2 separate regions of the Homo sapiens genome follow, and region 2 is linked to region 1. Evidence: fine-mapped expression QTL. A gene starts in region 1. The other region holds a variant in brackets. All regions are shown on one strand. Distances are from middle to middle. Region 1 holds the start of CHRNA10 (cholinergic receptor nicotinic alpha 10 subunit). Region 2 overlaps NUP98 (nucleoporin 98 and 96 precursor).

Region 1 (12,540 bases):
GCCATCACAACCTTCAGCAGGCAACACCCTGATCAGTCAGCAGCCATCAGCATCAAGGAAAGACCCTCCACCACCAGAAAGATGACTTGCTGAAGGCTCAAGTGATTAACATTTTTAGCAATAAAATATTTTTAAATTAAGGTATGTATATTGGTTTTTTAGACATAATGCTGTTGCACACTTAATAAGTGACAGTGGTATAGTGTAAACATAACTTTTATATCCACTGGAAAACCAAAAAATTTGTGATTTTATTGTGATACCTGCTTTATTGTGGTGGTCTGAAATGAAACCCACAGTATCTTTGAGGTATGCCTGTATGTGCTTTTACTTCTGAAGTCCAGCCAACATTATTTCTCCTTCCTTTCTGTCTTCCTGCCATGTCTTCTGTACTTTTGGAAACTATGCACTTGTGCAGACATTGTGCTCAATACTTTGTTTCTTCAGATGCCATCATTAATGAGAACTATGACTACCTGAAGGGGTTCTTGGAAGACCTGGCACCTCCAGAGCGCAGCAGCCTAATTCAGGATTGGGAAACATCTGGGCTTGTTTACCTGGACTATATTAGAGTCATTGAAATGCTCCGCCATATACAGCAGGTACCTGAGATCCTGAAACTGCTGCCTGATTTTCCTTTTCTCAGGCCCTTAAATCTTCAGATACCTCACAAGGCCTTAGTATACACTTGAGAATGCACTGACAGAGATAGCACTGTCAAAGCAGGCATCTTGCTGAGGCTCATTTGATATAACCGTTTCTGACAGCTATATCGAAACTTAAAAATGCTATTTTATGTTGATTACCAACTAGTATGTGCAATAGACATTCCTGAGGCTTGTCCATAGACAGTCTCTTCCCCTTGTTCAGTCCTAGTTTGAGTGAGAAGCCCAAAGATGAGAGATAAAATAAGAATGGAGATTTGGTGAGGGTGAGGATAGCTGTTTTACACATCATTTGGCATGTTTTAAAATTGCAAATATGGGTTTTAAAGTCAATGTCTTCGGTCAGTTTTTTTTTTTTTTTTTTTTTTGGAACAGAGTCTTGCTCTGTCATCCAGGCTGGAGTGCAGTGGTGTGATCGTGGCTCACTGCAACCTCTGCCTCCCAGTCTTAAGTGAGTCTCATGCCCCAGCCTCCCAAGTAGCTGGGAGTATAGGGTGTGTGCCACCACACGCAGCTAACTTTTGTATTTTTAGTAGAGATAGTGTTTCACCACATTGGCCAGGCTGGTCTTGAATTCCTGGCCTCAAGTGATCGGCCCACCTTGGCCTCCCAAATTGCTGGGATTACAGGCATGAGCTTACCGCACGCCTGCACGCAGCCTTAAGGTCAGTCTTTGTAGTCGTAAAATGAGTCTCCACTGCTTGCTTATGGTGCAAAAACCAAACTCATTATAATAAATATAGGATTCAAGTCCTTTTAGAGGCTTTTACCTTTCCTGCCTTACTCCTACCACTCTTATTCCACGTTCCAGCCTTGCTAGCCTGCTGTACTCACACTAAATTACTTCTGGTGTTTCTAACAAACCATATTATGTTCCACACTACCTAGCACACTTAAACTCATCCTTTTAAGATCTAGGTTGCTGTTACCCCTACTTCTCTCTGCTTTTCCCCAGAGATAATTAATTGCACTTTCTTACTACCAAGATACTTAGTACATTATTCTACTAGTGCACCTGTCAGACCATATTGTAGTTACTTATTCATATTTTCAGGTTGCTATAAGCCCCTTTTGGGAAGGTCTTTTACGGTTACAGGCAATAGAGTGTAGAGGTTAACAGCTCAAGTTCTGGAAGCAGACTTATAGATTCAATTTGTGGCTTCCAAATTCACTGGCTATGTAATCTTGAGCAAGTTAACTACCTCTCTCGTCTGAAAGAAAAAGGTGGGTGGGGTAGACAGTAGTACAGATTATAGTTCATATTGACAGATTTTCACAAAGATTAAACAAAATCTACATGAAGTGTTTTACATAGTACCTTTCATGTACTAAATGCCTTTTTTTTTTTTTTTTTAGGCAGAGTTTTACTCTGTCACCCAGGCTGGAGGGCAGTGGCACAATCTCAGCTCACTGCATCTCCCAGCTTCAAACAATTCTCCTGCCTCAGCCTCCCCAGTAGCTGGGATTACAGGCGTGTGCCACCACACCCAGCTTTGTGTGTGTGTGTGTGTATTTTAGTAGAGACGGGGTTTCACCATGTTGGCCAGGCTGGTCTCAAACTCCTGACCTCGGCCTCTACTAAATGCTTAATAATTGTTATCTATTATTATCCTCATCAAAGTTCCAACTCCTAGTACAGTGCCTGGCACATAATAGACATAATTCAATGTTTGCTGTACTTTTAGTATGAATCAAGAACATCATTTCTAAATAATCACTTGAAGAAACCACTTTCTCATTGAATATTGAGTAATTCATTCACACAACCTATTATGGAGAACTCACTGTATGCCAAGCACTGTAGTGGGTTTGGGGAATATAAAGGTAAACAGTATGTGTTCTGCCCTTACCAAAATAATGATTTTGTGGGGGAGATACATACAAGTAAAGCAGCAATTACTATAGCTTGATAAGTATAGGGATTAAGCAAAGGGTACTATCAATGTGCCAGCACATAGCTGGATGTGGTGGTGCATGACTGTAATCCTAGTACTTTGGGAGGCTGAGGCAGGAGGATTGCTTGAGACCAGCCTGAGCAACATAACGAGACCCCCCTTCTCCCAAAAAAAAAAAAAAAAAACCTATGTTACATAAAAACTCTCTAGTATTATCTTGTTCTGCTTCTTCTCCTTACCCTACATGTCACCATGTAAATCTCCTTTGAATTCCCACCTTTGGGGGTTTTAGCTGTCTTCTCTTTGCCTGGAAAGCTGAGCTCTCTCCTTGTTATTCAGGTCTCAATTTAAATATGACCTCCTTAAAGAAGCCTCTCTTGGTCCTCCAGTCTCAAGTAGCTATCCAGTTTCTCTCTGCCACATCCACCTGTTTAAATTATCTACATGGCTTGTGATTTTTCAGGATTTATTACTGTTTTGTGTTTTCTTATTTATTTTCTATCAGTTTCATGAGAGCAAATAACCTGTCTTGCTCTTGATCCTCCTGCCCCCTGCACACAGCTTTTTTGGTGTTTTAGAAAAGGCTATAAACTTGGAGTCAGGGGACCTAAATTAAATGTTGGTTCTGGCTGCATTTTTTACTTCCTTGTGTGCTCTTTAGAAGTCATACCATCTCTCTGAACCCAATTTATCTTGATTTTTGGTGCTGTGTTATTAAAGCTTGCTGTATAGTTCGGGATCTCAAGACTTTTCCTAGTCCAAGGCTAGGTAACTGTGTTACCTTCCTCTTGGCTATTACTGCATAATTAGTGCCTTGTCCTCCACTAGATGGTGGTGGCTTGGCCCTGTGTCATCATCTTGGATTTTCCCCTCCCTCACCTCACTGTTGTTTCAAGGTTTTGTGTAGAGTCTATAGGTGGGATTGGAGTGATAGGAACTCCCCTTGGATTAATTGGCTTCTCTGCTTCTTTGTAGGTGGATTGCTCAGGTAATGACCTGGAGCAGTTACACATCAAAGTGACTTCACTGTGCAGTCGGATAGAGCAGATTCAGTGTTACAGTGCTAAAGATCGCCTGGCTCAGTCAGGTAAGCCTCTAACCTCCTCACTCTTTCTGCCTTCTTGCTTCCTGTTTTTATGATTATTACACCCCACCCTCAGTGCCTACCACCCTTCTCCAGACCCCATGCTCAGTGCTTGACTCTAGTTTTTCTCTCTAGACATGGCCAAACGTGTAGCCAACCTGCTGCGCGTGGTGCTGAGTCTGCATCATCCTCCTGATAGAACCTCCGACTCAACACCAGACCCTCAGCGAGTCCCTTTGCGCCTCTTGGCTCCCCACATTGGCCGGCTTCCCATGCCTGAGGACTATGCCATGGACGAACTGCGCAGCCTTACCCAGTCCTATCTGCGAGAACTGGCTGTTGGGAGCCTGTGAGCCCCAGGCACTTTGCATCACAGTCACATGCCCATTCACACCACACAGAGGTTCCCTGCCTTGTTTGGATTGGCACTGTTTGCCATTCTCTGGGTTGGCTGTGGCATCTACCCTCCCTCCCTGCTGCCAGAAGCAGCATCCTCCACTTGTTCAGGGCTTTTCTTAATACTGAACGTAGCATAAGGGCTTCTGGAACCCAGAAGAGGAGACAGTTTACCATCCTCAAGATCATTCAGTGTTTTTCCTTTAAAAAAATGGTCAATAAAGCTCCTTTGGCAGAATCCCCCAAAGAACCAGGGTATTCTTTTTCCATCCCTAGCCATTCTGGATCTTGTGACCCTCCATGCCAACCAGCTTCCCTACTCCTACCCTGGCCCTTTTATACTAGGACTCCTTAGGAGGAGTGAGACAGGTGATAATGGATCCTTAACAGATGAACTATCCACAGAAGGAAGAGGGATCCGTCTCTTAAGTAATTGGTTAGTTAACACTGAATTTTGGAGGCAAAGGAGGGTTGGCCTGAGTTAGGAAACAAAATGGGATCTTTCTGACACACTTAGGGCAGAAGTGAATGCCTGTCACGGAGGGATTGATCTTCAGGGCTGTTTTTGTTCCTGCCTTTAGAGTTCCATGAACACCATACCTTTGCTACTACTATGTGCAGGAACCCTTGGTCACATGTGACATGTCTGTGGGAAGCTCCCAGAGTTTGGTTTGGTCCCTGGTTTTCAGTCTTGCTGAGACTCTGTCTGGATTTGCCTGCAGAGTTTGGATAAAAAATGGCAGGTTGGGTAACCCTCCCTGTTCATCCCATGTTAGCTCCAAAGCATTTCCCACCCTCCATCTACCCCTTCCAGAAGCAAAAACAAACCATGACTGAGGCAGGCATGGAGTTGGGCGTTAGGGGCAGGCAGAGGGCCTTTGCTACACTGCTGACAGCTATAGGGAGCCCCAGGTAATGGCATGAGATAGCTGGTGTTAGGGCTATCTCAGGCAATATGGCCACACCTGGGTCTTTATGCATGAAGATAATGTAAAGGTTTTTATTAAAAAATATATATATGTATAAATAAATGATCTAGATATTTTCCTCTTTTTCTGAAGCTACTTTCTTAAAAAATAAATAAAATGTTTATAGCATTCCTGGTATTGGCTTTCCCTTTGTATTTTTGAGCCTTCTTACCCTGAGGATCTTTATGGTGGCCTTGTTTGATTTAGCCTGTTTTTGAATTTGCCTTCTAAATGGAGACAGGCCATGGGCTAAAGAGAACAATTGGGTGCTAAACTGAAAGATAGATTAGCCCAAAGGCTAGATTTATAAGGGGAAATTTAGGGGCAAGGGAGTTGATTATTGATTAATACTGATTGCTGTACATATATTTATGCACATAGATTCCCGGGTCTCAAATTGCCCAATAGAATATACCATTCAAAGCCTCCTCGCTCTTCTACTATAGTGGTTTTGTTTTTAAACCCTGAGTGACGCTTCACCTTTCTAAATCAGATTCCCTTTTGTAAAGGGGATAATGATTGCTGATGTTACTTCACACAGGGCTATTTTCAAGAGGAATCAATTGAGTAGCATGAGTACTATTCCAGATCTTATTTTGATCTGTCAAGCTGAAGATGTGAGCAAATTCCAATTAAGATTAGACCAAAGACTTCTGAGACTTTCAGGAATTCAGGGATGAGAAAGCAGAGTGGGTCAGCTCTGTTGTCTGGAACTTCCATTTAACTTAGATGCCTCAGGATAGGGGTTACTCAGCTGGAATCCCCTCCACTACTGACTCACTATGTGAACCTGAGTGAGTCACAAAACATAGTTGGACTTCCAGCAAAGAACACCTGACCTGGTTTCCTTACCAGAGGAATGTTTCAGAAAGTGAGTATGCTATAGAAATGGTTAGCTCTTAGCAGTGTTCGGAATTGTGGGCCAGGAGTGGTGGCTCACACCTGTAATCCCAGCACTTTGGGAGACCAAGGTGGGAGGATCGTTTGAGGCCAGGAGTTCAAGACCACCCCAGGCTACATGACAAGACTCTGTCTCTAAAAAAAAATAAAATTAGTTGGGCATGGTGGTGTGTGTGCATAGTCCCAGCTACTCAAGAGGCCTAAGCAAGAGGATCGCTTGAGCCTAGGAGCTGAAGGCTGCAGCGAGCCATGATTGTGCCACTGCACTCCAGCCTGGGCAACAGAGCAAGAAAAAAAAGGTTCTCAATCAAAGGTTTATCATAGAAGCCATGTTGTGCATAAAAGAGAATATCAACTTCCAGTTCAAGATAAGGGTGATGAACAATCTCTTCTTTTTTTTTTTTTTTTTTGAGACAGAGTCTCGCTCTGTCCCCCAGGCTGGAGTGCAGTGGGGCACGATCTGCAAGCTCCACCTCCCGGGTTCATGCCATTCTCCTTCCTCAGCCTCCCAAGTAGCTAGGACCACAGGCACCCGCCACCATGCCCGACTAATTTTTTTTTGTATTTTCAGTAGAGACGGGGTTTCACCGTGTTAGCCAGGATGGTCTCGATCTCCTGACCTCGTGATAAGCCTGCCTTGGCCTCCCAAAGTGCTGGGATTACAGACGTGAGCCACCGCGCCAGGCCTGAACAATCTCTTCCACATCCCAAAATCCCGTTGAAATAGTAAAAAATGTTTTAATTTCAAAAAAAATTCTCAAAAACATAAAACAGGAACCAGTTACCTCAACATTCGATAGATCTGTGGAATCTACAACATTCAAATAACTTATTTTCTCAACAGAACCCAAAGTTAACAGAGGTCTGGAGAATTAAATATTGGAATAATTAAGCAAAGGCCTGCAGAGTATCTGCTCTTTTTAGATGTTTCATCTTTAGCTCAGTTTTGTTAATTTGTATTTCCAGAAAATTGTTCCAGATTTTTTGTTATTCAAATAACCAGTCCTTAGACGTATTAATCAATTTTACTGGAGTTCTGTATAATCTTAATTTCTGCTTTAAATGTTCATTTCTTAGGCTTTCCTAAGGATTTGTTAAACCTTGTATTGGTTGGGCACGATGGCTCACGCCTGTAATCCCAGCACCTCGGGAGGCTGAGGAGGGAGAATCCCTTGAGCCCAGGAGTTTAAGACCAGCCTAGGCAACATAGGGAGACCTTGTCTCTTAAAAAATGAACAAAAATTAGCTGGGTGGTGTGCACCTTTAGTTCCAGCTATTCAGGAGGCTGAGGTGGCAGGATGGCTGTAGGGTATTTTGGTAGTTGTTCTTTAACAAGTTAAGGACAGTTCCCCTCTACTAGCTTGAATAAGTGAATGTTGGATTTCAATTTGAAATGATGTGAAACGCTTGTGTGTTAGGAAGGTGGTTGGAGATAAGCAGAGTACCTGGGAGAGGGGACGGGTGGAGAAAGTGCAGGGAATCACTGGCATATCCACGATGCCCAAAGTCATGGCTATGGATGTGATTGCCAGGGAAGTATGTGCTGCTGTTGGTCAGGCAACTGGTCAGCTTGAACAAAAATAATCAAAACTCTGTGCATGATAAATACCTGTGACCTGAGGATAGCCTGGCTACCTTACTGGGACCACAGTGTAAATATTGTTGATGACCTGCTGTACCTTAGGCACCGTGCTAGACAGTGCCTTGCACTATCAGGTTATCTCATTTAAATCCTTGCAGTTTTCAAGATGAGTACTGTTAATCCCATTACCAGATTGAGAGAACAGAAACCCAGAGAGTTTAAATATCTTACCCAAGTGAGAGCGCTCATAAGACAGGGCCGAAAGTGACTGAATGCTTGCCCTCTTCTCCCACACTGCCCACAGTGTTTGGGCAAGGTGAAAAAACAGGCTCAGATGGGAATGACTGCAGGGAGTCTGAGGAGAGGATGTGGGCTCCATCTTCTGCTCCACTGGGTCATCTGGAGTGGCCTGAGGCTCAGCACTACTCCCACCAGGAGGGAAGGGCTTGCTTGACCCAAAGTGCCTAGCCTGGAGTGTCTAGTCCCGCACTGCAAGGAGAGCTGCAGGTCTAAGGCAAACCTCCACCTCCAGAATTCAGGCAATGGTGGCTAAGATGAGAGGACAGTTATCCATCCACTGACCCTGGCCCCTCACACTCTTAAGCCCTGGTCTTCCACATACCCTGACCCAGCATACCTGTACTCTCCAACACCCGAGGATGGGCCTGAGCTGAGTCTGTGTGCTGCTTTACAGAGTTTGAATAATTCAAGCCCCAGAGGCCCGAGGTATCAGTTTCCGTTGCTCTGTTGTCATAGGCACGGTGTAATTAAGCTAATGAAAGGGCAGAGAGGGAGGGGCTGTGGTCCTGTGCCTCGGACGACTCTGGGCTGATCAAGGGAGGAGTCCCTGGTCCCTGTTCTGCTGAGAGAGCAGCAGGCCCATCTAGAGTCCAGGTGTGGGGAATGGAAGAAGGAAGGAATGAGGGATGAAACAGAAGTAGGAGAAAGGGAGAGAGAGTGGAAAGAGGCAGGCAGGGGATGATCAGAGTCAGGGAGGCAGAGAGACCAAGAAAGTTACAGACGGAAAGAGAAGGAAGCAGAAACAGAGTGAAAGACAAAGCAGGTGGGGAGCATAGGAAAGGGCAGAGGCAGAGGCCAGAAGAGGCAAGGACCAGCAGAGAAGAAGAAAGACCAAGTACTAAAATCCAGGGGCAGGCACAAATTGGAGGGTCAGAAGACTGGAGGGGCTGCAGGGCTCGCTGGAGGGTGGCTGGACCCACCAGAGATCTGTCTTACTTCTGACTTCTAGGTACTGTCCACACCATCCTTGCCAGCTGGGCCTAATTTTGCCCTAGGTCTGGCCAGGAGGCCTCACATCCAGAGACCTGCCCCCGCTCTTGCAGTGCCAGGGCCATGGGGCTCCGGAGCCACCACCTCAGCCTGGGCCTTCTGCTTCTGTTTCTACTCCCTGCAGGTATGAAGCTCAGTACACCAGCCCTGGCCTCTCCTGGTGGTGCTACTATTCCTGTTCTCCCAAAATCCCTTTCCATGTAGTCTCTCTTGTGTTTCTCCTCAGTACCTGTTCTGAGAACAAGCTCTCTATTTGGGGAGTGTGGAGGAGAGGGGTGCTGAAGTGCGTGAGAGGAGACTTGCCTGGCTAGGGTGGAAACAGTGAGCGGGGAGCTTCCAGAGACAGGGCTGGGAAAATCAGAGGGGCCAGATGTTGAAGGGCCTGCCGGCCAGGCCAGGTCTTTCTCCTGCAGATGACGGGGAGCACTGAAAGGTTTCAGCAGCATACTAGCCTGGTCAGATGTGCATGCTTAAAAGCGTGGTCCTGGGGCATGGGAGGGGTAGAAGAAGGTGAGCCTTTGGGGAAAGGGAGACAGTGAAGGGAGGGCCCTGACCTGGAGGGGAGAGGGTAGACTCAAGACGATGTTTCGCAAAATCTGGAGGATTTGAATGATCTGACAGGATCTGGAGATTAACTGGATTCCCCGAGGAGGAGGCAGCAGAGGGAGAAGGGAGGGATAATTCCCAGATTTCCAACTAAGGTCACTGTTGAAGCTGAGGGCATGCTATTTGCTGAGATAGGGAACATGGGATAGGAAGCAGGTTTCAGAGCATGGAGGGAGGAAGCGAGTTCATATTTTGGACCCTCAGAGTTGAAGGTGCCTGTGGGAAACTCAGGAGTGGACTGTACTCTATTGGGGTCTGGAGCTCAGGAGAAAAATCTGGGATGAAGAAAAAGATGGGAGCCAAGGACAGGATTCATGGGAACAATGTTTAGGTCAGGGATTGAGGAAAATTTGTGTCAGTAAAGCCTGGGGAAGTGTGTTTTCAGAGTGAGGGAGTGTTCCATCGCATCAGAAGTTTTGAAGAAACCAGCTCGAGATGGAGAAGTGGAAACAGGTTTGAGAGATACTGGAGGGGGCAGAGCAGTGGGGTTTAGAATCCCTGGGTGAAAGTCTGGACTCTTGTGGCTTATTTGGGCCCCTCTAGCATTTGTGGAGAGGCAGGCAGACTCCAGGTCCTTGAAAAGGGGAGGGTGGAGGAGAAATTTGTCAGCCTGGCGCCAGAAGATAGTACCAGTTCACTCCATGGCCTTTACCTCATGTGTCCCTGCAGGCAGGCCAGGGAGGAACTAGAGCCACAGCTAGAGCAAGAGAAGGCAGACACCAGGAGGACACTCATAAGGACAGGGCCCCAGCCCTGGGAGTGGAGGGTGTGAGCAGAGGCCCTGGGACTAGGGCCTGGGATGGACAACCCTCCTTACTGACCCTCCAGAGTGCCTGGGAGCTGAGGGCCGGCTGGCTCTCAAGCTGTTCCGTGACCTCTTTGCCAACTACACAAGTGCCCTGAGACCTGTGGCAGACACAGACCAGACTCTGAATGTGACCCTGGAGGTGACACTGTCCCAGATCATCGACATGGTGCGTTGTGGTGGTGGTACAGCTGTGGAGTCTTACCTGTCACAGTGTCAAGAAATGAAGGGGTGAGAGACTGGGATTATTCTCCATGGAATTTCTTTTCTGTAAATGTTAATATTAACAAAGGTAGCAGTTACAAACTGTTGGGTACTGACTGTTGGGTACTGAGTATTGGGTGCCTACCTCGTGCCCAATATTTTGTTCACCTGAACTTACTGAATCCCTGCTAAGCAGGGATTCTCACCCCATATTCCTGCTGAGGAAACAGGGGCAGAAAAGAGAAGAGCCCACTAAGGTCACATGGCAAGGTCAGGTCTGGGTGGGAACTGGACGGTATGGACAAGTCAGGTTTGTGGGTGCTGACCAGAGCCCTGCAGGGGAGTGTGCACAGACAGGGCAGGATATGCATATACATGTCCACATCTCTGCCATTCCCTGCCCCCACTAGGATGAACGGAACCAGGTGCTGACCCTGTATCTGTGGATACGGCAGGAGTGGACAGATGCCTACCTACGATGGGACCCCAATGCCTATGGTGGCCTGGATGCCATCCGCATCCCCAGCAGTCTTGTGTGGCGGCCAGACATCGTACTCTATAACAAGTACTGCCTATCTGGGCCCCTCCTCTCTCTTACCCCTCTCTAGACTTGCCCTTAGCTGTGGGGGTGTAGTGATCCCCTCTCCCTACCACATAACCTGGTTGCCACGCTGCCCTGGAAGCTTTTCCCCAGGACCCTTCTAAGCTGCCAGGCACTCAGCCCCTCCATGGCACCCCCACTTTAGGCTATCCCAGGCCAGCCCAGGCTGAACGTCTCCTCGGAACCTACTGTGTGGTCCAGGGCAGTTGTCTGAATCACAAGGGCCTCTCTAGGGCACACTTTTAGCTCTAAGTCTCTCAGGGCTCCCCGAAGAGCCTGTGTAAGGGTCTCTTTCCTCCAGGACATAGCCCTCTGGAACACTGCTTTATGTCTCCTTGACCAGTTCCGTGTCTCCCAGCCAGCACATAGCTCTGCATATTTTCTCTGGGGCCCTTCTACAAGTTTTGCAGATGTCCCCCAAGGGAAGTCACTGTGTGTCCCGGAGCTACCTCTGGGTTCTGCAGAGGCCTTTTTATACATCCTCTGGCTACGTCTGTGTCCCTTCTGGGCCCTTCAGGCACCACCCCTTCCAGGCCTCGAAAGGCAGCGGGTCTCTCTAGGTGCACTCCACCCTCTGTGTTGCTTTGTTCTGAAAACAAGAATCAAATTAACGAAAAAAAAACAAGCACAAGTTTATTTATTTATTTGAGACACAGTCTCGCTCTGTCGCCCAGGCTGGAGTGCAGTGGCGCTATCTCGGCTCACTGCAAGCTCCGCCTCCCGGGTTCACGCAATTCTCCTGCCTCAACCTCCCAAATAACTGGGACTGCAGGCACCCGCCACCACGCCCAGCTAGTTTTTTGTATTTTTAGTACAGACGAGGTTTCACCGTGTTAGCCAGGGTGGTCTCGATCTCCTGACCTCGTGATCCGCCCACCTCGGCCTCCCAAAGTGCTGGGATCACAGGCGTGAGCCACCGCACCCAGCCACAAGCAGAAGTTTATTAATCTGCTGTACCCATCATGGGAGAGGCCTTAGTTCAAAAGTATTTCTCTCTGAAGGCAGTGACTTAGGGGCCTTGCTTAAATAGAAATTCAAGAAAGAGCCAGTAAGTTATAAATAGTGGCAAGACAAAGGACAGCCACCTTTAAAAGGCGGGAAAACGTGGAAAGAGGGTAAAATCTGTTTCCAGATTCCTCTGGCACCTACTGGTGCCCTTTGGATAAGCAAGTGCTGACTCCAGCAAGGAAGGGCTGATGTCCTGCCATCAGGCCAGCAGACGCTGGGGCCAGGTGCTCCCCTGCGTCGTGAGTGTCTCGAACTTAACGAGCCTCAATATTCTGGGGAGAAGTTTTGGTTTCTTTCAGCCCCTGGGGGTCTGCCCTGGGCTCCCGGCCTCCGGGGCTGCTCCTCAGGCTGGACAGCCTAGGTGAGCCCTGCCCCGCCTGCCCCCAGAGCCGACGCGCAGCCTCCAGGTTCCGCCAGCACCAACGTGGTCCTGCGCCACGATGGCGCCGTGCGCTGGGACGCGCCGGCCATCACGCGCAGCTCGTGCCGCGTGGATGTAGCAGCCTTCCCGTTCGACGCCCAGCACTGCGGCCTGA
Region 2 (12,540 bases), 78 kb before region 1:
TATTTAAAGTAGAGATGGGGTTTCACCGTGTTGGCGAGGCTGGTTTTGAACTCCTGACCTCAGGCGATCTGCCCTCCTCGGCCTCCCAAAGTGCTGGGATTACAGGCGTGAGCCACTGCACCCATCCCTACTTATTTCTTTCCTATAAAATTAAAATGGAAAGATAGTTAAGGGTCAGTTAGCGTTTCTCAACCTTTTCTATTATCACTTACCCTTCCCCATGGACCGTTTGTAGACTATTTTTTCATTTTTAAGTTGTACCTGCTGTAATGGGACTGTTTTTTCTTTTTTCTTTCTTTTTTTTTTTTTGAGACGGAGTCTCGCTCTGTCTCCCAGGCGGGAGTGCAGTGGCCAGATATGGGCTCACTGCAAGCCCTGCCTCCTGGGTTCACGCCATTCTCCTGCCTCAGCCTCCCGAGTAGCTGGGACTACGGGCACCCACCACCACCCCCGGCTAATTTTTTCTTTGTATTTTTAGTAGAGACGGGGTTTCTCCATGTTAGCCAGGATGGTCTCGATGTTGTGACCTCATGGTCTGCCGGCATTGGCCTCCCAAAGTGCTGGGATTACAGGCGTGAGCCACCACGCCTGGCCTGTTTTTTCTTAATCATCATCTCCCTTCCCCTGAGATTTTCATACCACGCATATACTGTGTATCTGCTTATGTTGTGTGACTCTCTGGAGGGCCACAAACTATCATAATCTGTGATATTTTAGTCCCTCAAGAACCAATTTCCACTCCCTTTGAAAATGTGTGTTTTTAATAAAGCTCTTTTTTTTGTAGCATGCTTCATGTTCAAAATTAAATATTATTTCTTTTCTTTCTTTTTGAGACGGAGTTTCGCTCTTGTCACCCAGGCTGGAGTACAGTGGCGCGATTTCAGCTCACTGCAACCTCTGCCTCCTGGGTTCAAGCGATTCTTCTGCCTCAGCCTCCCAAGTAGCTGGGATTACAGGCATGCACCACCACGCCCAGCTAATTTTTGTATTTTTAGTAGAAACAGGGTTTTACCATGTTGGCCAGTCTAGTCTGGAACTCCTGACCTCAGGTGATCTGCCAGCCTCGGTCTCCCAAAGTGCTGGGATTACAGGTGTGAACCACCACGCTCGGCATTTTTGTTTTGTTTTGTTTTGTTTGTTTTTTGGGGAGACAGGATCTCTGTCTCCCAGGCTCGAGTGTAGTGGTGTGATCTCAGCTCACTGCAACCTCCGCCTCCTGGGCTCAAGTGATCCTCCCACCTCAGCCTCCTGAGTAGCTGGGACTACAGGCATGCACCACCACACCTGGCTAATTTTTGTGTTTTTGTAGAGACAGGGTTTGCCATGTCACCCAGGCTGGCCTCGAACTCCTGAGCTCAGGTGATCTGCCTGTCTTGGCTTCCCAAAGTGCTGGGATTACAGGCATGAGCCACTGCGCCCAGCCCGTTATTTTTATCTGAACACTATAAGGGTGTTTGTATAGGCTACACTTGATAAAATATATATATATACACATATAGATATAGATATAGATATATAGATATATATATATATTTTTTTTTTGAGATGGAGTCTCGCTCTGTCGCCCGGGCTGGAGTGCAGCGGCACGATCTCGGTTTGCTGCAAGCTCCGCTTCCCGGGTTCACACCATTCTACTGCCTCAGCCTCCCAAGTAGCTGGGACTGTAGGCGCATGCTGCCACGTCTGGCTAATTTTTTTGTATTCTTAATAGAGACGGGGTTTCACCATGTTAGCCGGGATGGTCTCGATCTCCTGACCTCGTGATCCGCTCACCTCGGCCTCCCAAAAGGTTGGGATTACAGGCGTGAGCCACTGCGCCCAGCCGACAAAATTTTTTTAAAGATATATTTGATGTTATATGTGATGTATATTAAGATATATATGATGTCTCCCCAAAAAACAAAAACAAGCCGAGTGTGGTGATTCACGCCTGTAATCCCAGCACTTTGGGAGACCGAGGCTGGCAGATCACCTGAGGTCAGGAGTTCGAGATAGACTGGCCAGCATGGTAAAACCCCATTTCTACTAAAAACACAAAAATTAGCTGGGCATGGTGGTGCATGCCTGTAATCCCAGCTACTCGGGAGGCTGAGGCAGAAGAATCACTTGAACCCAGGAGGCAGAAGTTGCAGTGATGGTTGCAGATTTCTGATTTGCTTAGAGGTTTTTTTTTGGTGTGCGAATATATTTACAGTCATCTTCAGTGATATGAAAATGAAAGGTGTCATCTTTATCTGAGTTGTCTCACCAACTTGTGTGCCGAATTTGAATTGTCTTTTTAATTGTAATTTGTAAAATTGAATTTTACAAGTCGATAAACTTGTCAGTGAGAATCGGAGGAAATGTGTGGTATAAACAGTGTAAGTTGGGATTTATTTCCCTTCTGTGGGTTTGAGATAGTTCACGAGTGTCTTGTTTTCTGCTGCTTATGGGACTGTAAGATCCCTTTTGATTAAATTTTTATTCAAAAAGGAAAAGAATATCTCCAAGTACATTTTTTGTGTTTTCATCAAGGAAAATTGATGATGCTTGAGTAGGCAGCACCCCATTTTTGTGGCATAGCTATTAGAAGAATTAAAGAAGAGATTCAATGAATGTCTAAGTCAAATATATTGCGATTAAGTCAGGTTACTTGATTGGATTTTATTTCATGTATTTATTTTTTTCGAGATGGAGTCTTTCTCTGTCACCCAGGCTGGAGTGCAGTGGCGTGATTTTGGCTCACTGCAACCTTCGCCTCCCAGGTTCAAGCAGCTCTCTGCCTCAGCCTCCCAAGTAGTTGGGATTATAGGCGCCTGCCACCACACCCGGCTAATTTTTGTATTTTTTGGTAGATATGGGGTTTCACCATCTTGGCCAGGCTGGTCTTGAACACCTGACCTTGTGATCCACCTGCCTTGGCCTCCCAAAGTGGCGGGATTACAGGCGTGAGCCACTGCGCCCGGCCTGCTTGCTTGAATTTTAAAATGACATGAAATACGATTGTTTTTAAACTTTTATATTCTTCAGCTTTCTTCTTGATTTTTTTCATTGAGATAATAATCCAAATACTGGCACAACAAAGTATAATATTAGTGATACTTTCATCTGTTCTAAAATAGTCTCTTTATTCTGTTTGTTATCTTTTTGGGCTACTTTTTCCTCCATGATTTTTTTTTTCTTTTGGAGACGGAGTCTTGCTCTGTTGCCCAGGCTGGAGTGCAGTGGTGTGATCTCAGCTCACTGTAACCCTCTGCCTCCTTGGTTCAAGCGATCTTCCTGCGTCAGCCTCCCAAATTGCTGGGATTCCAAGCGTGCACCACCACAGCCAGCTAATTTTTTTTTTTTTTTTCGTGGTAGTAGAGAAGAGGTTTCACATGTTGGCCAGGCTAGTCTTAAACTCCTTTCCTCAAGTGATCCACCTGCCTCTGCCTCCCAATGTGTTGGGATTACAGGCGTGAGCCATCATGCCCAGTGCTTTATGACTTTTAAATGACTTCATATGTTCTGCAAACAGGGTTTTCTGGCTAATGATTTCTTTTCTCTCATGAGAAATTAATGACATATTCATTAATTGTTTTGTTGATATTTATTTACAAAAAGAATAATGAAACTGTGGGCATAGATGAAGAAAAGAAAAGTAATGGCAGCAGTACAGAATAGGATCTTTGTTTGATACCTATGGATTTTTTTTTTTTTTTTTTTTTTTGAGATAGTGTCTCGCTATGTCGTCTAGGCTGGAGTGCAGTGGTGCGATCTCGACTTACTGCAGCCTCTGCCTCCCGGGTTTAAGCAATTCTCCTGCTTCAGCCTCCCAAGTGGTTGGGATTCTGGGTGTGCACCACCACACCCAGCTAATTTGTGTATTTTTAGTAGAGGTGGGGTTTCTCCATGTTGGCCAGACTGGCGTTGAACTTGTGAACTCCAGTGACCTGCCCACCTTGGCCTCCCAGAGTGCTGGGATTACAGTTGTGAGCCACCGTGCCTGGCTGATACCTGTGGATTTTAAAGGGAAATTATAGGATTTTGTTTAAATGGTGGGTCATAGTGAAGAAGACTTCTCACGTGTAATCAGCTACACGTTACTATCCTGGCTAGGTTCATCTATTCAAAATAAAAGCTACTGTGGAAAGTTTTGTAAGTAATTTTTTTCTTAGCAAGGACCTTTAGGTTCAGTTAAAGTGTCTTTGTTGATTGTTTTATTTTTATTTTATTTTGTATTTTTTTTGAAACAGAGTCTCACTCTATCCATGCTAGAGTGCAGTGGCACGATCTTGGCTCACTGCAACCCCCGTCTCCCGGGTTCAAGTGATACTCCTGCCTCAGCCTCCCAAGTAGCTGGGTTTATAGGCATGCGCCATCATGCCCGGCTAATTTTGTATATTTTGTAGAGACAGAGTTTCACCATGTTCCCCAGGCTGTTCTCGAACTCTTGACCTCATGATCCGCCCACCTTGGCCTCCCAAAGTGTTGGGATTACAGGCGTAAGCCACCACACCTGGCCAGTTGTTTCATTTTTTTTAGTACAAGTTAGGGGGAATTAATTTCTCTTCTAAATAAACTTGAAACTTGCATTGAAAGCTTTGGGCCTTACAAAGGCAATGTTCCCAAAGCTCAAGTGTGTTCACTTTGCTTGAATATTGATATTATCCTATATTGAATTGATATTTCTTTATTTTATTTTATTTATTTATTTATTTTTATTTGTTTTCGAGACAGAGTCCTGCTCTGTTGCCCAGGCTGGAGTGCAGTGGCGCAATCTAGGCTCACTGCAACCTTTGCCTCCTGGGTTGAAACGATTTTCCCACCTTAGCCTCCCGAGTAGCTGGGATTACAGGCACGCACCGTCATACCTGGCCTTTTTTTTTTTTTTTTTTTTTTTTTTTTTTTTTTTTGTATTTTTATAGAGACGGGGTTTCACCATCTTGGCCAGGCTTGTTTTGAACTCCTGACTTCAGGTGATCTGTCAGCCTCGGCCTCCCAAAGTGCTGGGATTACAGGCGTGAGCCACCGCGCATGGCCTTTGAATTGATATTTCAAGGCTGAAATGTAATTAAGTAAATATGAAGACTTGTTTGCATATGTGAAATTTTTTTTTTAAGTTATCCTACAAGTTAGGAGTCCTAAATATTAACTGAAAGGTTCACAACTTAAAGTCAGACTGCTTTGTGTTAAACTCCCTTATAGAGGAAATTGAGAGTTATATTAAAAGTACAATCCACTCATTCTTTTGTCTTCCTAGGTTTTGGCACAAATACCAGTGGGAATAGTATTTTTGGAAGTAAACCAGCACCTGGGACTCTTGGAACTGGGCTTGGTGCAGGATTTGGAACAGGTAAGAAACTGCTACCATGAGATCTAGGAAGTGACACAGCTTGACTTTCTAGTTTCTGGAACTTGAGAGATCTGTTTGATTATGTTACTGGAATTAAGAAGTCTACCTTTTCGTTTTTCCAGTTGCGTTTATAAGACATTCCCAGCAGTTATGCTTTACCAGGCTTTAAAATATTGGCATGTTTGTGTTAGAAGCTGTATGCTCCCTTTTCTACAAAATGTCCTCTGATAGTCCTGGTCTTTTTGGGATTTTTAGTATTTAATGTGAGAATTGTCATGAGGACATTAACTTTCAGTTTCCCCATGTTACTTTTGTAACAGGGATTTGAGACCTTAAACTGTTCATCAAAGTAAGCCCTAATAGAAAGGCAGAGCAATAAGAGCACATGCTGATGTAATTCTCCTTTGCAAGGAGAATTTCATTTAGTTCCATTGTCATATAGACCAGTGTCACCCCTTTTCCCTGATTCCTACTGTTAACAACTATTTTTCAGTGCCTTTGAAGATACTGACCCTTCTACCTGCCCAGCTGTTTTTAAACAGCTGGAGCGTGATGATGGTCATAAAATATATAAGTGTTTTAGCATGTACAGTAAAACTAGGTTGTTTAGTTAAACATAGAGTTTTGCCTACTTTTTCAATTCGTTTGACTGCAGGTGTGGTCATTTAGTTGCAAACCATTTCCATAGTCTGCTTCCACTGTCCAGTTAATCTGTTTTTTTTTTCCCCTTCTATCATCTGAGCATTCATCTGTCATTTCCTTCTTTTTTATTTATTTATTTATTTATTTATTTATTTTGGAGATGGAGTCTCACTCTGTCGTTCAGGCTGGAGTGCAGTGGTGCAGTCTCAGCTCACTGCAATCTCTGCCTCCCAGGTTGAAGCAATTCTCCTCCCTCAGCCTTCCTAGTAGCTGGGATTACAGGTGTGTATCACCATCCTTGGCTAATTATTGTATTTTTAGTAGAGATGGGGTGTCACTATGTTGGTCAGGCTGGTCTTGAACTCCTGACCTCAGGTGATCCTCCCTCCTTGGCCTCCAAAGTGCTGGGATTACAGGTGTGAGCCACCGTGCCTGGCTGTCATTTCCTTCTTAATGGAACCTCATTTTGTACTATGATCTGCTTTTGTGGTTTTTATTTTTATTTTTTTCAATTTCCCTTTTTTTTTTTTGAGATGGAGTCTTGCTCCGTCCCCCAGGCTGGAGTGCAGTGGCATAATCTCGGCTCACTGCAACCTCCACTTCCCGAGTAGCTGGGACTACAGTCGCACGCCACCGTACCCAGCTAATTTTTGTATTTTTAGTAGAGACAGGGTTTCCCCATGTTGGCCAGGCTGGTCTCGAACTCCTGACGTCGTGATCCTCCCACCTCA[A/G]CCTCCCTAAGTGCTGGGATTACAGACATGAGCCACCGCGCCCAGCCTTCAGTCTTCTTTTTAAGATAAAAGGTGTTTTATTTTGAGACAGGTTCTTGCTCTGTTACCCAGGGTGGAGTGCATTGGCATGATCACAGCTCACTGCAACCTCTACCTCCCAGGCTCAAACCATCCTCCCACCTCAGCCTCCCTAGTAACTGGGACAACAGGTGCAAGCCACCATGCTTGGCTAGTTTTTTAATATTTTGGAGAGATGAGGTCGACCTGTTTTGCCCAGGCTGGTCTCGAACCCCTGGGCTGAAGCCATCCTCCTGCCTTGAGCTCTTAAAGTGCTGGGAATATAGGCATGAGTCAGTGCTCTCTGCTTAAGATAAAAGATGTAAGTGCTGGTAAAAAGTTTTTAACAATTCAGAAATTTCATGAAAAGTCCAGTCTTTTTCAGCTGTGAAATGATTAGGGTTGTTTGGCATGTATCTTGTCAGACCCGTTTCTGTGCATTTTTCGGACATGTTTACACACACACACGTCTGTACATACATGTCTTTTATATTTAGGGTTTAGGATTATATTCTTGTTTGTTTTTTGAGTCGGAGTTTTGCTCTTGTTACCCAGGCTGGAGTGCAATGGCACAATCTCGGCTCACCGCAGCCTCCGCCTCCTGGTTTCAAGCTATTCTCCTGCCTCAGCCTCCCGAGTAGCTGGGATTACTGGCATGTGCCCACATGCCCAGCTAATTTTGTATTTTTAGGAGAGACGGGGTTTCTCCATGTTGGTCAGGCTGGTCTCAAACCCCTGACCTCAGGTGATCTGCCCGCCTCGGCCTCCCAAAGTGCTGGGATTACAGGTGTGAGCCATCGTGCCCGGCCTGGGATTATATTTTTAAATGGAAACTACACCCTGTATGAGTGACTTTTAAGCCAGAGACTGAGGTGCATTAGTTGGTTATAATTAATATAGTTGCCTGCAATCAGCATTTGAAGAAAATGAAGTAGAATTAAAAATCAGTAGGCTGGGCCTAATGGGTTATGCTTCTAATCCCAGCACTTTGGGAGGCCTAGGCAGGAGGATTGCTTGACGTCAGGAGTTTAACATCATCTTGAGCAACATAGTAAGATGCTATCAAAAAAATAAAATAAAATAGATATGCATGGTGGCATGTGCCTGTAGTCCTAGCTACTCAAGCAGCTGAATGAGATGTGCTGTGGGAGGATCGCTTCAGCCTGGGAGGTAGATGCTGCAGTGGGTTACGATAGTACCACTGCACTCCAGCCTGGGTAACAGAATGAGACGCTGTCCTAAAACAAAAAACAAAAAAAAAACATTTAAAATGTTAAGGTTAGTATCCTTTTATGAAACTTTGTCTCAGTTGTGTTTGTGTTTATGTGTTTCGGATCTCAGTGATTTTCATTGCATGTGCTGTAGTTGAAAATGTTTGAAAGCACTGTCTTACATAGTGTTCTGTGACTTGTATTTTCATTTCACATAATACCAGTTTTTCTTTTGGTCAGTACATACATATCAATCTCATTTTGAAAAACGCTATTTAGAGCTGGATGAGGTGGCTCATGCCTGTAATGCCAGGTCTTTGGGAGGCTGAGGTGGGCGGATTACTTGGGCAATGTAGGGAGACCCTCTCTGTACTAAAAATGCAAAAAGTTAGCTGGGCTTGGTGGCATGTGCCTGTAGTCCAAGCTACTCGGGAGGCTGAGGTGGGAGAATCACCTGAGCTTTGGAAGTTGAGACTGCAGTGAGCGGTGATCATTCCGCTGCACTCCAGAGAAAAGTCTCATTCCTAAAAAAAATTATTTAGTATTCCATTAAGTACACACAATTTACACACATCATACATATACCATTATTTAACATTTCACCTATTGATGGACATTTATTTGATGATGTTGGCAAAACCCTCAGTGAACATTTTTTGTTACATAATTTTGCAGGTGTTAGTTTATTGTAGGATTGATACATCAAATTGGAATTGCAGTGTTGGAATATACGCATATTTCAGATTTTGGTTGAATTTGCTAATTTGCCTTTCAAAAATACCAGTTTGTGTTGCTCACATTATATACAATGCCCATTTTTCTGTATTTTCCATACTGGGCTTTTTTGTCTTTTCATACATGACAGTAGAAATTGGTACATTCCAGTTTGCACCTCACTGATTACTGGCAAAGGTGAATATCTTTGTTTTTTTTTTTATTTGCCATTTAAGTCAGTTCTCTGTTCATAGTGTTGGATTATTGTTTCTTTTTTTCTGCACCTACCACTAACTTGAGATTCTTGTTAATTTATATTTTATTTATTTATTTATTTAGAGACCGAGTTTCTCTCGTTGCCAGGCTGGAGTACAATGGTGTGATCTCAGCTCATGGCAACCTCCGCCTCCTGGGTTCAAGTGATTCTCCTGCCTCAGCCTCCCATGTAGCTGGGATTGCAGGCATGTGCCACTGCACCCGGCTAACTGTATTTTTTTAGTTAGAGATGGGGTTTCACCATGTTGGCCAGGCTGGTGTCGAACTCCTGACCTCAAGTGATCCACCAGCCTCGGCCTCCCAAAGTGCTGGGATTACAGGCGTGAGCCTCTGTGCCCGGCCTCTTAATTTATTTATTTATTTTTTTTTTGAGACGGAGTCTCGCTCTGTCGCCCAGGCCGGACTGCGGACTGCAGTGGTGCAATCTCGGCTCACTGCAAGCTCCGCTTCCCGGGTTCACGCCATTCTCCTGCCTCAGCCTCCCGAGTAGCTGGGACTATAGGCGCCCGCCACCGCGCCCGGCTAATTTTTTGTATTTTTAGTAGAGACGGGGTTTCACCTTGTTAGCCAGGATGGTCTCGATCTCCTGACCTCATGATCCACCCGCCTCGGCCTCCCAAAGTGCTGGGATTACAGGCGTGAGCCACCGCGCCCGGCCCTCTTAATTTATTTTTAAGGATTCTTTGTGTATTGTGGATATTAACTCTTTTTGGTTATATAATTGTTTTTTTTTTTTTAATGAAAATTCCTCATTATACCCCAGAAAGCATTTCATTTGAGCTTTTCAACTTATCCAACTTCTACCACATAAATTTTGCAAGAAATAAAAACAAAAGCTCTCATTTTGTTGTACAGTGTGATCCCTAAACATATTCAGAATATATCATCTGAAATCAAATAATGGTTTCTTCCAACCCTGTAGGAAAAAATAGCTTTGGTACGGGCAAATTAAGGAAGGCTTTTCTTTTCTTTTTTTTCTTTTGCTCAAATTCAAATTAAGGAAGGCTTTTCTTTTTTTGTTGTTAATAATTTTTGTAATTTTAATAGAGATGGGGTTTCACCATGTTGGCCAGGCTGGTCTTGGACGACTGACCTCAGGTGATCTGCCTGCCTCAGCCTCCCGGCATAAGCCACTGTGCTGGGCCACAAGTTTTATTTTTTTCCAAGATGGACTCTTGCTCTGTTGCCCAGGCTGGAGTGTAGTGGTGTGATCTCGGCTCACTGCAACCTCTGCCTCCCAGGCTCAAGCAATTCTTGTGCCTCAACCTAATTTTTGTATTTTTAGTAGAAATGGGGTTTCACCATTTTGGCCAGGCTAGTCTGGAACTCCTGACCTCGTGATCCTCCTGCCTCGGCCTTCCAAAGTACTGGGATTACAGGCATGAGCCACTGCGCCCAGCCACAAGTTTTATTTTTATGTGATCAGAATTACTTTGGCTCCTGGATCTTGTAGGTTATGATTAGCAATGTCTTCCCCCATATTCCAAGACTCTATAATTCTTTTTCTGATGCTTTTGTCTCTCATTCCACAATAATGTAATATCCTAACATTTTATTTTAATATATTCTGTTTTTCTTCAACAGTTCTCTCTCACAATAAACAAACTGCATTGTGTTGCTGTTGTATATTCCTTATACATGCCTCTCCTATAAACTAAAAGATGAATACAATCAATTAAGAATTTTACACCCCCAACCTTAGCAGCAGCATATCATGTAGGGAAATGAGAATTGTGAGTCAGCAAGCACACACACTGTTGCAATTCCCTGATGATCACATCTGCTGAAGCAGGCCCTTGGGTTTGGGAGGAACATTTCCTGAGACTTGCATATAAACACCCACGTTCCTGAACTCTGCATTTCATGGTTTAACAGGTAGACTAGCACTATAGCTTCAGGCTGTATTTTTGGGAGGCAATAGCTAAGTGGGTGTTTCTCTGCAGCTTCTTATTTTCAGTGATGGTGATTCAAACTCAAGCCTCCTGTAATGTGGGCGTTTGGGTACTTAATGAGTAGTTGTTACACAAATATTAAATGTACAGATACATAAGATATTTTTGTATGCTTCGATGTAAGAAACCAATCTTAGTATAAAAGGTTTTATACTGACCCTTGGCATGTGATTTTCTCCCGCCCCATGTGTTGAGACTAAGAAACATTCATTAACTCATGGACATAACAATTTCTTGTTTTATAGTGATATTAACATCATTAGCACTATCAATTGCACACCACTGCCTTGGTTATTTAGTAATAATAATAAACCTTTGTTCTACAGGTTTTCCTTGAAGTAATGGCTACATATAGGAAGGTTGATTGTAATACTAAGAGAGACATAGAAAAATCTTTCTGGTGCTAATAGATGCCTCAGATAAATTTAAATTCTAACAATTTTGGAATATCTCAAAAGGAAAATAACCATTTTCAATTTTTTCTTGATTTTCTTTGGAGTTTCTAAGGCCACTATTACCATTTTGCCCCCCATATAGCTTCTTTATAACTGCTACAGCTAATCATAAATATAGCACATTTTTCCTATCTTGACAAATTACCAGAACTTTATTGTATCACACAACATCACACTCAGAATGTCTCTCAAATTGTGGACCATTACTTCTTTCATTAAACATAAAAAGCCATTTGTGCATAAAACAAGGCAGATCTGGATAAAAATACCTATTTTTCCATTGCAATAGTCAGTAGTCAAGTCATTTTATGATAATCCCTTTACAGACAACTCAAACCTCACAGTACTTTTTTTTTTTTTTTTTGAGACTGCGTTTTGCTCTTCTTGCCCAGGCTGGAGTGCAATGGCATGATCTCGGCTCACTGCAACCTCCGCCTCCCGGGCTCAAGCGATTCTCCTGCTTCAGCCTTCCCGAGTAGCTGGGATTACAGGCATGTGCCACCACGACCAGCTAATTTTGTATTTTTAGTGGAGACAGGGTTTCTCCATGTTTGTCAGGCTGGTCTCGAACTCCTGACCTCAGGTGATCTGCCCTCCTCGGCTTCCCACAGTGCTAGGATTACAGGCGTGAGCCACCGCGCCCAGCCCACAGTACCTTTTTTTAATTCTTCTGTGGATTACTGAAATACAGTACAGTGATTTTAGAATGATTCATGGGTCATCGTCCAGGGATGCTGTAAAGGTGAGGGCAATACACATTTAGAGTAGAATTTTTCATCTATTTTATATATTTGAGTTTCACCTAAGTTTTTGTTTGGAGGCAAGGAGGTATTAGACTACCAGAAAATAAACAATTCTGTAGTTTGTGCTGTAAACTATTTCCTTTGATGAAGTAATATAATTTTAGTATTTCTTGGAGCTTGCGTTAATTACTAATGGTTTAGAACTTTAAAAGAAGTCTTATTCTTTGTCCCAAAGCTGTCTTTTTTTTTTTTTTTTTTTTTTTTTGAGATAAAGTTTTGCTCTTGTTGCCCAGGCTGGAGTGCAATGGCGTGATCTTGGCTCACCGCAACCTCCACCTCCCGGGTTCAAGCGATTCTCCTGCCTCAGCCTCCCGAGTAGCTGGGTTACAGGCATGTGCCACCACACCCAGCTAATTTTTGTATTTTTAGTAGAGACAGGGTTTCT

The links. PIP is the estimated chance that this variant, and not a neighbour inherited with it, causes the effect. A credible set is the group of variants that fine-mapping cannot tell apart.
Region 2: its variant is the best candidate, but not a certain one, in a credible set for the expression of CHRNA10 in whole blood (INTERVAL, PIP 0.60).

What each region holds. Positions count from the first base shown.
Region 1 is chr11:3,667,616-3,680,155 of GRCh38, reverse strand. CHRNA10 (cholinergic receptor nicotinic alpha 10 subunit) reads left to right here and starts at 8,772. Exons shown (of 5, transcript NM_020402.4): 1 at 8,772-8,904; 2 at 10,215-10,360; 3 at 10,806-10,960; 4 at 12,392-12,540. The coding sequence starts at 8,844. It overlaps NUP98 (nucleoporin 98 and 96 precursor), which reads left to right. Exons shown (of 33, transcript NM_016320.5): 31 at 448-602; 32 at 3,536-3,647; 33 at 3,780-5,137. The coding sequence ends at 3,997.
Region 2 is chr11:3,746,090-3,758,629 of GRCh38, reverse strand. NUP98 (nucleoporin 98 and 96 precursor) reads left to right here. Exons shown (of 33, transcript NM_016320.5): 11 at 5,222-5,314. Among named protein-coding and RNA genes, the nearest start is that of NUP98, 45 kb to the left of the region's middle. The variant A/G (reference allele first, on the strand shown) is at 6,688.